Linked DNA regions of Homo sapiens: region 1 is linked to region 2. The links come from fine-mapping of genetic effects on gene expression. A gene starts in region 2. The other region holds a variant in brackets. All regions are shown on one strand. Distances are from middle to middle.

Region 1 (5,359 bases), 41 kb after region 2:
GGCACTTCTGGGTTCTCCGGCCTGTCTCCGACCCAAGGGCGGCGTGCAGTGAGCTGAGGCCAGCGGCGCCCTGGTGGTCAGGCCTGAGAAGGGGATGCTGGCTGTCACTGTGGCTCAGCCCAGTTGGGGTGCACGGCGTCTGCAAAGGAAGAGAGGCTGTCCGCTGGCTTCCCGCTGGCTCCCCAGAGTGGGCATCGTCAGGCAGCAGTGGTCCCTGGCCTGGGCAGTGTCGGCCAGTTCATGCTCACCCCGTCTCGGGGCAGGGCTGCTCCTTGAGTGCTAGGTCGTCTCACTCACTTTCATGGAGGTTCCTGAGCGGCCAAGCCTTGCGGTGACGCTTGAGTTGCTGTGTGGGGTGTGTGGGCCTGGCTGGCCCTCAGCTCCCGGGCGAGTGCCCAGCAGGTGTGTTTGCCAGGAGGGGGCACCTGTCCATGCCCACAGAAACCCGACCGCGACTCCATATCCACCTGCAGTGGGCCGGGTGGCCGAGTGTTCCACAGAAGGCCCATTTGGAGAAGTGGGCGTCTCACGATGAGGTGCTGAGGGTGGTCCCCAAGACGCACGGCAGAACCGCGGCAAGTCCCTGCCCTTGCGTGGACCCTGGAGAGGCCCGGGGTCCTGCTCCGGCTCCTGATGCTGACCTGGGCGCATGGTGGCAGGTCAGGCCTCGTCTTCACGCACGAGGGAGCCAGGCCTGCAACGAGGTCCCTTCTGTGCCTGAGAGGGCTAAAGCGGGGATCTCGGGACCCGGGCCAGTGGAGAGTGGCGTGTGAGCATTGCGGGGACACGGCCAGGGGCCCCCTGTCAAGAGGAGGGGCTCCCGCTCTGCTCTGGCCTCCGTGTGGCCTCGGTGCCTGTGTCGCTGGCCTCTGTCCGGCGGCAGTCTGCTTCCATCCCGAGTCAGCCTCCGTCTCCTTGAGGGCCCCGGCCACTGTCAGCCCTGGAGTCTGAAAACAAAACGTGTCCATCCCGGAGTCCCTCCGTCACAGATGTCTTCATCTAGGTGGCAGCTGGTTCCGCATAGGGTCTGTTGACCTGTTACCCCCACTCCGCATAGGGTCTATTTGCCTGTGTTACCCTGGCTCCGTGTAGGGTCTGTTTACCTGTGTTCCCCCCGCTCCGCGTAGGGTCTCTTTGCCTGTGTTCCCCCCGCTCCGTGTAGGGTCTCTTTGCCTTGTTCCCCCTGCTCTGGGTAGAATCTGCCCTAGAGACTCGCGGGGCCTCCACCTCATAATGTCTGAGCCGAGCTCAGAGCTGTGCCCTCTGCGGCCTCGTCTGTTGCAGGGGAGCAGGCAGGTCCCAGGAAGTGCGTGTCCTTCCTCCCGCAAGCAGACACGTGCTGCCTCGAAGCCTCAGCAGCCAGCCGGGCAGGCATGGCAAACAACACCCCAGTGTCTCGGGGGCAGGCGCAGTGTGAGCTACATCCTCTGCTGGGGCCGTCTTGGGAGTGGTTCTCCAGGTGCCAGGGCCTGGTCAGGGAAGTCCGGCCTCAGCTCAGCGTGGCCCTGGAGCCACCCACAAGGCACACGGGAGCTGGGCTGGGGTGGCAGGTGGGGCATCGGCAGGACGTTTGTGGGGTGAGGGAGTGCGGGTGTTTGGCTGGGAGCCCAGAGGGTGTTGTGTATCACTCACTGAGGCTGGACAAGAGGGAAGGCGGAGAAGCCTGGCCACATGTCTCCTGAGGGCTCCAGGCAGGGCCCTCTCACCTGCTGCCAGGGTCCCAGCCCGCAGGAGCTTCCCGTCCACCTCTGAACTCACGGTCCACATGGCGCTGGAGCGTCGGGCACCATCTACAGGGCTTGAGGCCAGCAGCCTAGCCTCTGGGTCCACTGGGGCAGGCAAGGTGAGTCCTGCTGTCTGTGGAGCCAGCGTGCTGGGCCGGGCAGGGGGCCTCGTTGGCTGGGGTGGCTGCAGCTCCGCCCTGCCTGGGGCATTTGTGGGTTTTTGCGAAATGCAAAAGTATGAGCTGCTAGTGATTAACTTTTAACGCCTTTAATTTTTAGTAAATGAGTAAGTGAATCCCTGACCCCAGGCGGCTGGGACCTGGCCTGTACTTCATGGGCTTTGTGTGAGCAGCTCCGTGCCGTCTGTCGCACACCCACACCTCAGCCTGGCCAGGCACAGTTTAGGAATTTTGTCTTCTGGGTGTTTCTCTCTCTCTCTCTTTCCGTGTGTGTGTGTGTGTGTTTTGAGGTTGAGTTTTGCTCTGTTGCCTGGCACAATCTCAGCTCACCGCAACCTCCGCCTCCCGGGTTCAAGTGATTGTCCTGCCTCAGCCTCTGAGTAGCTGGGATTACAGGCGCCCACCACCACGCCCGGCTAATTTTTGTATTTTTAGTAGAGATGGGGTTTCACCATGTTGGCCAGG[C/A]TGGTCTCAAACTCCTGACCTTGTGATCCGCCCACCTTGGCCTCCCAAAGTGCTGGGATTACAGGCGTGAGCCACCGTGCCTGGCCCGTGTGTTTATATTTTTAAAGAAAAATGGAAGTTTTTGTGTTTCTTATGTTAGCTGCATTTAGTTTGTTAAAAGTCACGGTTTTGTTTCCCCTGTGTCCTGTGGATGCATACCGTGCTGTTCTCCCCGGACCTGCTCTGAGGGCCCCACATCTCGGCTGCAGTTCTCTGTGTGTTGGGGCTGAATGCTGGCATCAAACGATCTGAAAAGAGTCAGCCGCCACTGTTAGGTTTTCTGTTTCTGTCTTGGGGTCAGGATTTGTGGATCAGGGACCTGGGGTGCGAGGTGAGGCAGCTTGTTAGGCGGATGATGTCTGTCTGGGGTTTGATTGATGGTGAGATAAGACGCGTAAACCAGGTCATGCAAATGAGATCTTGTAGATGTCAACCACGGAGATTAAATTTCCTCTCTTCAGCAGCTCTGGGAGGAGGTGAGATGCCCGTTGGCCGTGTTCTGTGCACGTCTTGGCGTGTGACGAAGGGTGACTTGTCTCCAGAGATGGAATGAGGGGGTTGGGTGGGGCTCCTCCTGGACTCAGACCCACGCCCACCCACACGCTCCAAGGAGGGGGATGCATGGGCACTGGAATCTCGGATGGCCGTCCCCAGCCCCTGCACACGCACCCTGCGGGGTCAGCCGTGTGGACTCACCCCCGACTCCCAGTCCCTGTATGCACCCTGCGGGGTCGGCCGTGTGGATTCACCCCCGACTCCCAGGCCCTGCACAGGCCCTGGGGCGTCAGCCATGTGGACTCCCCAGGCTGGGTCCCAAGCGTGGACGCCCCCCACTCCCTGCTGCCCCGGGCTCTCCTGGTGGTGCTTCCAACACGTGGTCCCCGTGCTATCCATCAAGGGGCTGCTGGGCCACCTCCTACACTAACTCCAGTCTCTGCGAGACACTGCATCTTCTCCAAGGCCACCGTGAGCGCCTGGCACCTCCTCAGCCCTGTGTTCCTTGGTACATGCCTTGTTCTGGACAGCACAGGGCTGACTCACACATGGGACTTGAGGCCCCTGGTTCTGTGCATTGGGGTCGCTTTGGCAGAGGGGCCCTGAGGGCTGAGAACGTGGGGTGCACAGGGGCCCGTGTGAGGGTCAGGACATGGGGGTGCAGGCCCTCAGGACAGCCAGAGGGACAGTGACCCTGTGTGTGGGGGGGGGCATGAGAATGGGGGCCCTGGGGGTGAGCAGGTGCCCGCTGGTCAGCTTGAAAGGGATCTGTTATGTTCTGCTTTGGTTTCTTGGTTGCCCAGCCTTAGACTGGAGTGGGGTTCTGGCCTGGAGTAGGCCTGTGTGCATCCCGCAGAGTTGGCTCAGGAAAGATCGTGGCTGCATGTGGTGTGTGGCACGCTCAGGGCTGAGAGGGCTGGGCCGGATCTGCAGGGAGTCCAGCCTGTGGGCTGAGGGAGGCTGTTCTTCGGAAGGTTGTGCTGGGCGTCACTGCCAAACAGCAAGGACTGCAGTTGAGAAGACTACACGTTCTTGGTCCGCTGGGGCCACGGGGTCCGTGGGGGCGAGCATCTGGGGAGAGTGGGAATCCTCAGGGTTTGGGTTCCTTGTAAACCAGAATCGCTTTGGAGAGCCCTCGGGGGCAGGTGCCATTTGCAGTTCTGGTGTTTTCCGTGGGTTGTCTGTGTGGCTTGGGTGCCCTGGTCCCCTGGAGGAAGGAGTGTCTGGTAGCTGCTCCTCCAGCCTCTGGTGAGCCGCACCTCCCGCCATCCCAGCCCCACCCAGCAGGTCGGCTTGGAGTGAGGCGATTACTTTGTACCTAGACTCTGACATAAAAGCTGTTAGCTCAGATTTTTCAACTTAAAAATGCAGGCCGGGTGCAGCGGCTCATGCCTATAATCCCAGCACTTTGGGAGGCCGGGGCAGGAAGATGGCTTGAGCCCAGGAGTTGGAGACCAGCCTGGGCAACACAGCGAGAATCTGTCTCTAACAAGATGTTTTTTACATTAGCTAGGTGTGGTGCTGCACATCTGCGGTCTCAGCTTCTCGGGAAGATCGCCTGAGCCTGAGAGTTCGAGGCTACAGTGAGCTGTGACTGTGCCACTGCACTGCAGCCTGGGTGACAGAGTGAAACCCTGTCTCTAAAAGTTAAAATTAAAACGCAAACTTAAATGTGCCAAAATGTTGTTTTTTAGACATGCAAGAAAGCACTTCAGCCAAGCAGAAGGGAGCCAGCTGGACGAGGTGCGCCAGGCCATGGGCATGCTGGCCTTCCCGCCCGACACGCACATCTCCCCGTACAAGGTAGGGCGTGCGTCCCTGGGGTCGGTGTCATGCTGGGGTGGGGATCCAGGGTGTGTCTCTGGTCTGTAGCTGCTTCCACACGTGGGGCGGGACGTGAGGGCCCCATCCCAGCCACACAGCCTGTCCAGCCTGCCAAGACAAGCTTTTCTTGTTTGACTCCCATTTTGCTCATAAGAAATTTGAATCAGGGCTGTGTGTGGTGGCTCACCCCTGGAATCCCAGCACTTTGGGAGGCTGAGGTGGGAGGACTGCTTGAGCCCAGGGGTTTGAGAACAGCCTGGGGAACATAGTGAGACCCCACCTCTACAAAAAAAATTTTTTTGAAAATTAGCTGGGCATAGTAGCACCTGCCTATAGTCCAGCTACCCAGGAGGCTGAGGTGGGAGGATCACTTGAGCCCATAAGGTTGAGGCTGCAGTGAGCCAAGATTGTGCCACTGCACTCCAGCTGGGGTGACAGAGCAGGACCTTGTCTCCAAAAAAAAAAAAAGCAGTTGAGAAAGGTTCAGGAAGCCTTTCAGCCTGGAGCGTTCAGCCGGGGCCCAGCTTCCTTGCCTGTCCCCCTGGTTCTCCTTTCTCTACAGCCCCTGAGTCAGGAGTTAGGCTGCACCGTCTTCCGTGGTTCTTTCTCTTGCTGACGCTTTGTATTTTATCT
Region 2 (5,359 bases):
GCTTACTGCAACCTCTGCCTCCCAGGTTCAAGTGATTCTCCTGCCTCAGCCTCCCAAGTACCTGGGACTACAGGTGAGTGCCACCACATCCAGCTAATTTTTGTATTTTTAGTAGAGACAGGGTTTTACCATGTTGGCCAGGATAGTCTTGATCTCTGACCTCGTGATCCGCCCGCCTCGGCCTCCCAAAGTGCTGGGATTACAGGCGTGAGCCACAGCACCCGGCCAAGTCTAGCAGCTTTTTAAGATCTAGATATGAAACATTTGCCATCTATTGCTTCTAATGGTGGCCACCTATGAGGCTTCATCTATGTAATAAGAACGTTGGTCTCCACAACCCCTTTTAACCCAGATGCTCCTTTCTCTCGATTCCAGATCTTTAGATAAGCACTCTTTCAACCAAATGCCAATCAGAAAATCTTTGAATCCACCTGTGAGCTGGAAGCCCCGCTGTGCTTTGTGTTGTCCTGCCTTTTCGGACCAATGTAAATCTCACATGTACTGATTGATGCCTACATCTCCTTAAAACGTATAAAATCAAGCTGTAACCCAACCACCTTGGGCATGTGTTCTGAGGACCTCTTGAGGCTGTGTCACTGGTCATGATCCTTAACCTTGGCAACATAAACTTCTAAACTGATTGAGATCTGTCTCAGACACTTTTTGGTTTACAAAAGGACTAATTCAAATACAGTTTTATCTTCCAACATAAGAAAACCTAGAATGAATGACTCAAAGGTTGTAGAGGGTTAAACAACCTCTCCAACGTGCAAACCTCTGCCTTATAATTCCTAAGTATTTCTGACTGTAGATGGTACTAGGATAGGATCATTTTACCATGGAAATGAAACCCGTGTCCTTTCCTTTGGGTTAATCTTGAATCCCTGGTGAAGTGAAGGCAGTCTCTAAGAGGAGTGCAGTCCATCCAACTGCTGCAGTGCTCCTGTGTACTACTGGGACCATCCCGGAGAGTGGCAGACACGATGCGAACCGTGAAAGGACGCAAAGAGTACAGAGTGCATGCTTCCATCTCTATAGGAAGGTCAGGAACGCTGTTACGGGGAGCAGGGTTAGAATGATGGGGATATAGCCCGGGAAGGGGCAGAGGAGCTTTCTGTGCCACGGGAAATGTCCTAAATCTCAACCAGGACACGGTTAGATAAAAGTGCAAATATGGGTGAAAATTCATTAAAGCTGTATAGTTAAGATTTGTGCACCTCACTGTAAAACTTACTTCAAATGTCTAAAAGACTGGAGTCTGCAGCCACACACTTGAGGAATAACACTTTCCTTAGTCCCAACTCCTGTTTAAGTAAGACAGAGAAAGATTCCACAGTGCGGGTCGGATGTCTTGCGGCTGTAACATGTAGCAGCCTCCAAGCGGAGGTTCTCCCTTCATCGCTGTGTCACCTTAGATGTTTTTCCTTTGTTTAAACACCAAATATTTTAAAAGTTGTTTAGAAATGTGTTATGTGAAACACAAGGTGGTTTAATTGGGACGTCATTTCCTAATTAATAAAATCTAATTTCAGTTTTATTTTGGAAAGGAGGGAGACGGGTGGTGTTTGAAAGGCTGAGAATGTGAAGTGGCTGAAATGAAGGCAGCGCACGACCTGGATGCCAGCGCTGCCCGCCCTGCAAGGAGAGGGCGGAGAGGCCACACGCTTCTCATGCTTCGGGAGTTTCTGTCCATAAATCAGTTTTAGGTACTGGGCCTTTCCTCTTCCGTTGGGAAGTCGGAGGTTCCACATCAGGATTCCAGCAGCTGTAAATCGGTCAAAATAAGGCCAAAGAAAAATAGCTGGCTACAGGCGCATGCGGCCAGGCGTTTTGTTGGCGTTGCCCTTGGTACCGCAGGCACGAGGGACCCACAGGGGACCACCCCGCGGGAGCCCCAAGTAACTGGACGGACGCCAAGTCCCCCAGCCCGCTCGGCCCCAGCTCCACCCGCCCGGGCCGCAGCCCGCACCCCATCGGCCCGCCCCGGGCCAGGAGCATCCCCAGCTCCGGCGTCTGCGGCCTGAACCCGGTAGCGAATTCAAGGTGGAAACCGCCAGCCGGGGCTATCGTTGATTGGCTGAACGAGAGGAAACCCGGCAGTGATTGGTTCGCGCCTTCTTCCGCCTCCGGCCGACTGGGCGGATACGATTGGTGCAGGGGCATCGGCCCGCCCCCATCCTGCTCCGGCCGGCGCGTGGCGTCATTTCCCGGCGTGCAGCGCGCTCGCGCGTCCCCCGCCCGCTAATGTTTTGGCCGCTTCAAGATGGCGGTGCAGGAGTCGGCGGCTCAGTTGTCCATGACCCTGAAGGTCCAGGAGTACCCGACCCTCAAGGTGGGCGCCTGCGCCGCGCAGGCTGAGGGCAGCGAAGGCGTCTCCAGCCAGTGCCCTCGGGCCGCGAGGGGCCGCCCCGGGAGGGCCAGCGGCGAGGGCGGCGGGAGCTGGGCGCGGCCTCGCGGGGCCGTGCGGGCTTCTCAGGGGCGCCCGGTCCGCGCCGGGCAGGTGTGGCGGGGGCGGCGGCTTTGGCCCTGCCAGGCGCCCGACTGTGGCCCCTCTGCTTGAAGAGCTGCGTGAGCCGAGCCAGCGACGACTCTGGCAGCGCTAAGGGTGGCGAATTTGGGGCTGGGGTGGAAGCCGGAGTTTGCGGGGCGTGGGGTCTCTGGCGCCCAGGCAGACGGAGTGCGCGGCGTGCCCAGCCAGTGCCCGGCCGCCCTCCCGGGAGCCCAGGGCTGGGAGGTGCCGGCTGCGCCGGTCGCTAGTTAGGAACTGTAGGGAGAAACCTCACGGCCTGATGGCACCCAGCGACCTTTTTGATGGGCGTCACCAAACCTGAAATACAGCTCTTGCCGTCCGGCTGCCGGTTGCGTGACCTTGGGTGGTCACCTAGCCACGTCGCACTTCTTAGAATGAAATTTGTGCTCCTAGTAGAAGGAGCCGATACTTGTTCTTTACCTAGTTAGTAGAGGATTTGATATGAAGCACCTGGGAAGGAATTCCTTAAAAGATCAAGGTCATAGCTTTCCTAGAGCTGCGGCTGAGCTTCGTGGTTCTGTGTTGCCTTCCTGGAGAGCTGCGTAGTTTCTCTCTCCTCCCAGAGCGCCCTGGTGTTCACGTCCGTCTGAGGACGGACGGTGTGGCGACAGGTGTGGAGGATGCAGTATGGCCAGGTTGCTGTGCGTTCCCCCAGCCCCAGGGCAGTTCAGCGAAGGGCTGAAGAGCACAGGCTGTGAGCCATCCTGCTGGGGTGTGAATCAGGCTTCTCTGTATTCGTCCTTACTGGGAGACATCAGGGCCCGGTTGGTGACTGTTTATTCTTGTCAGGTTTAAGCAGTGGTAGCGCCTGTGTCACCTCAGGGTGAAATGAGTGACCACGTATTGTTTCAAACAGTGCCTAGCATTCATTAAAAGGTCCCTGCTACAGTTAGCGCTGCTGAAGTCAGGCTGTACCCTGCTGTAGCTGGTCTTCATAGGAAAGCAGAAGCAAGCTTCTCCTCCTCTTTATTAACTAGCGGTTTATTTCATATTTTTAAAAAGAAACGGGGTTTCACTGTTGCCTAGGGTGGTTTTGGATTCCAGGACTTAAGCGATCCTCCTGCCTTTTGACCTCCCAAAGCGCTGGGCTGACAGGTGTGAGCCACGCGCCCGCCACACTAATGGTTTCGCAGTGGGGTTTCATGGTGCTTGTGTGTCCAGCACTTCTTTTGATCAAGGAAGGGAGGGCAATGTTGCTGACGTTACCAAAGGTCTAGCCTCTTGCTAGATCCCTCCAAGATGTAGGTGGTTGGTTTTTAATACTCAGTGACATTGGTGGATCTCTGTTGGTTTAGAGATGGAGACCCTGCAGCTGAGAGAAGTCTATACAAGGACATTGTGGTGATATTAGTAGGGAGTCCTAACCACTGACCACTTTGTCTCACGCAGTGCACCTCCAGGCCTGTCATTTCAGCTAACACACAAGAAGGTTTGAAGATCAGAACCGTGGTGGTTTGTCACTTCTGGTACTGGCTGGTGAATGTGGGAAACACTAGATAGGAAAAGTTTCCAGAAATCCTTTCATTGTGTATTGAAGGAACTAGGAAGGGAGATGGAAGGTCTCCGGAAAGGATTCTTCTTCAGGTCTTCTGCTGTTTTGTAATCGTGAATGTAATTTGTATTCCAGAGTGATTGCATAGCTTCTGATTAAAATAGTCATGCAGATAGTCATACAGGTAAAGAAATATTATAGTGTCATAATTTCTCTGTTGACACTTGTGTCACTACTGAGTTAAAACTTTTTTTCATAGAAGTTTTCAGGAGTGATTCCTAGTGGATAATGGAGGTGTTTTGCTGGGAAACTAGGGATCCTTGATTTAGAAGCATTTATTGGTATAGAACTAAACAGAACATGCTGAGCTCACAGCTCAAGAGCTGCACTCTTCAGTTTCCAGGAGGGGCCAGTGCAGATGTCAGAGAAGGGACCGAGGGCTGCAGGACCGGGGTTGTGGAAGGTGGGGGGTGGATGTTCTGCTTCTCTAGTCTGAGAGCAAGTCCTCCTGCAGGGTGGTAGCAGCTGGCATGCTCTGGACTGGATCTTCACCTGGTAATAGTTAAACTGCTTTCCTGCCATGTGAGTCCTCCACAGACTCACAGGGGATTCCTTTCTCTTCAGAGGGCTTGGTAGCCCTAGGTGGGTTTCAGCAGTAACACTTGGGATGTCTGCTTCCTCACAGCGTCAGGGCGGCTGGTGGGGCTCCTGGGTGCCTGGCAGGTACTTATTTTTCTATTTTCCTGGTGAAGTGGGAAGAGAATGGAACAGACGTGAATTGCTGCAGCCAACACGCACTGACCTTGGGCACCTCTGTCGTCATGAGCTTCTATTTCCACCAAAGGGGTGGACCGGCCTGCGAACGTTTGGGCTGGAGGAGCCTTTGTCGGTGGTGGGGGCTGTGCAGTCTAGGATGTCTAGCAGCATCCCTGGTGTCTGCCTGCCAGATGCCAAGAGCATGCCCCCAAAATGTCTTCAGACATTGCTAGATGTGCCCTGGGGGCATGCACACACCCCTGAGAATTGCTGGGCTGGATCCTGCTTTAAGGGACTTGTTTCTTCCTCTTACCAAACGGAGGTGTGGCTCATGAGGACTCAGCCTTGCGTCCTGGCTGTGGCTGTGTCTTTTTGCTGTCAAATGCTGTGAACGCCGTCCGGTGTAGGGTGGTGGGTAATGCCTTGTGGGGGAGGGGAAAGATGAATAACTCACCATCTTTTTTTTTTTTTTTTTTCTTTTTTGAGACGGAGTCTCACTCTGTTGCCCAGGCTGGAGCGCGGTGGCACAATCTCAGCTCACTGCAACCTCTGCCTCCCAGATTCAAGCAATTCTCCTACCT

Alleles and levels. Alleles are on the strand shown, and positions count from the first base shown. SD is a standard deviation of normalised expression in the study named.
In carriers of allele C in region 1, the expression in lung of the gene that starts at base 2,241 in region 2 tends to be lower than with A alone (moderate effect, 0.59 SD a copy in GTEx).

Evidence for each region. PIP is the estimated chance that this variant, and not a neighbour inherited with it, causes the effect.
Region 1: its variant is fine-mapped to the expression of MAEA in lung (TOPMed, PIP above 0.99). The same link has a PIP of 0.9 or more in CD4 T cells, NK cells, blood mononuclear cells, breast, cerebellar hemisphere and coronary artery.

Annotation. Positions count from the first base shown.
Region 1 is chr4:1,328,161-1,333,519 of GRCh38, forward strand. MAEA (macrophage erythroblast attacher, E3 ubiquitin ligase) reads left to right here. Exons shown (of 9, transcript NM_001017405.3): 6 at 4,597-4,705. Among named protein-coding and RNA genes, the nearest start is that of UVSSA, 16 kb to the right of the region's middle. The variant C/A (reference allele first, on the strand shown) is at 2,369.
Region 2 is chr4:1,287,651-1,293,009 of GRCh38, forward strand. It overlaps MAEA (macrophage erythroblast attacher, E3 ubiquitin ligase), which reads left to right and starts at 2,241. Exons shown (of 9, transcript NM_001017405.3): 1 at 2,241-2,332. The coding sequence starts at 2,264. It overlaps LOC105374347 (a long non-coding RNA gene), which reads right to left and starts at 1,921. Exons shown (of 3, transcript XR_925046.3): 1 at 1,235-1,921. It overlaps LOC105374346 (a long non-coding RNA gene), which reads left to right. Exons shown (of 2, transcript XR_925043.3): 1 at 1-73; 2 at 376-644. RefSeq lists silencers at 1,762-2,171, 2,272-2,551, 3,640-3,822.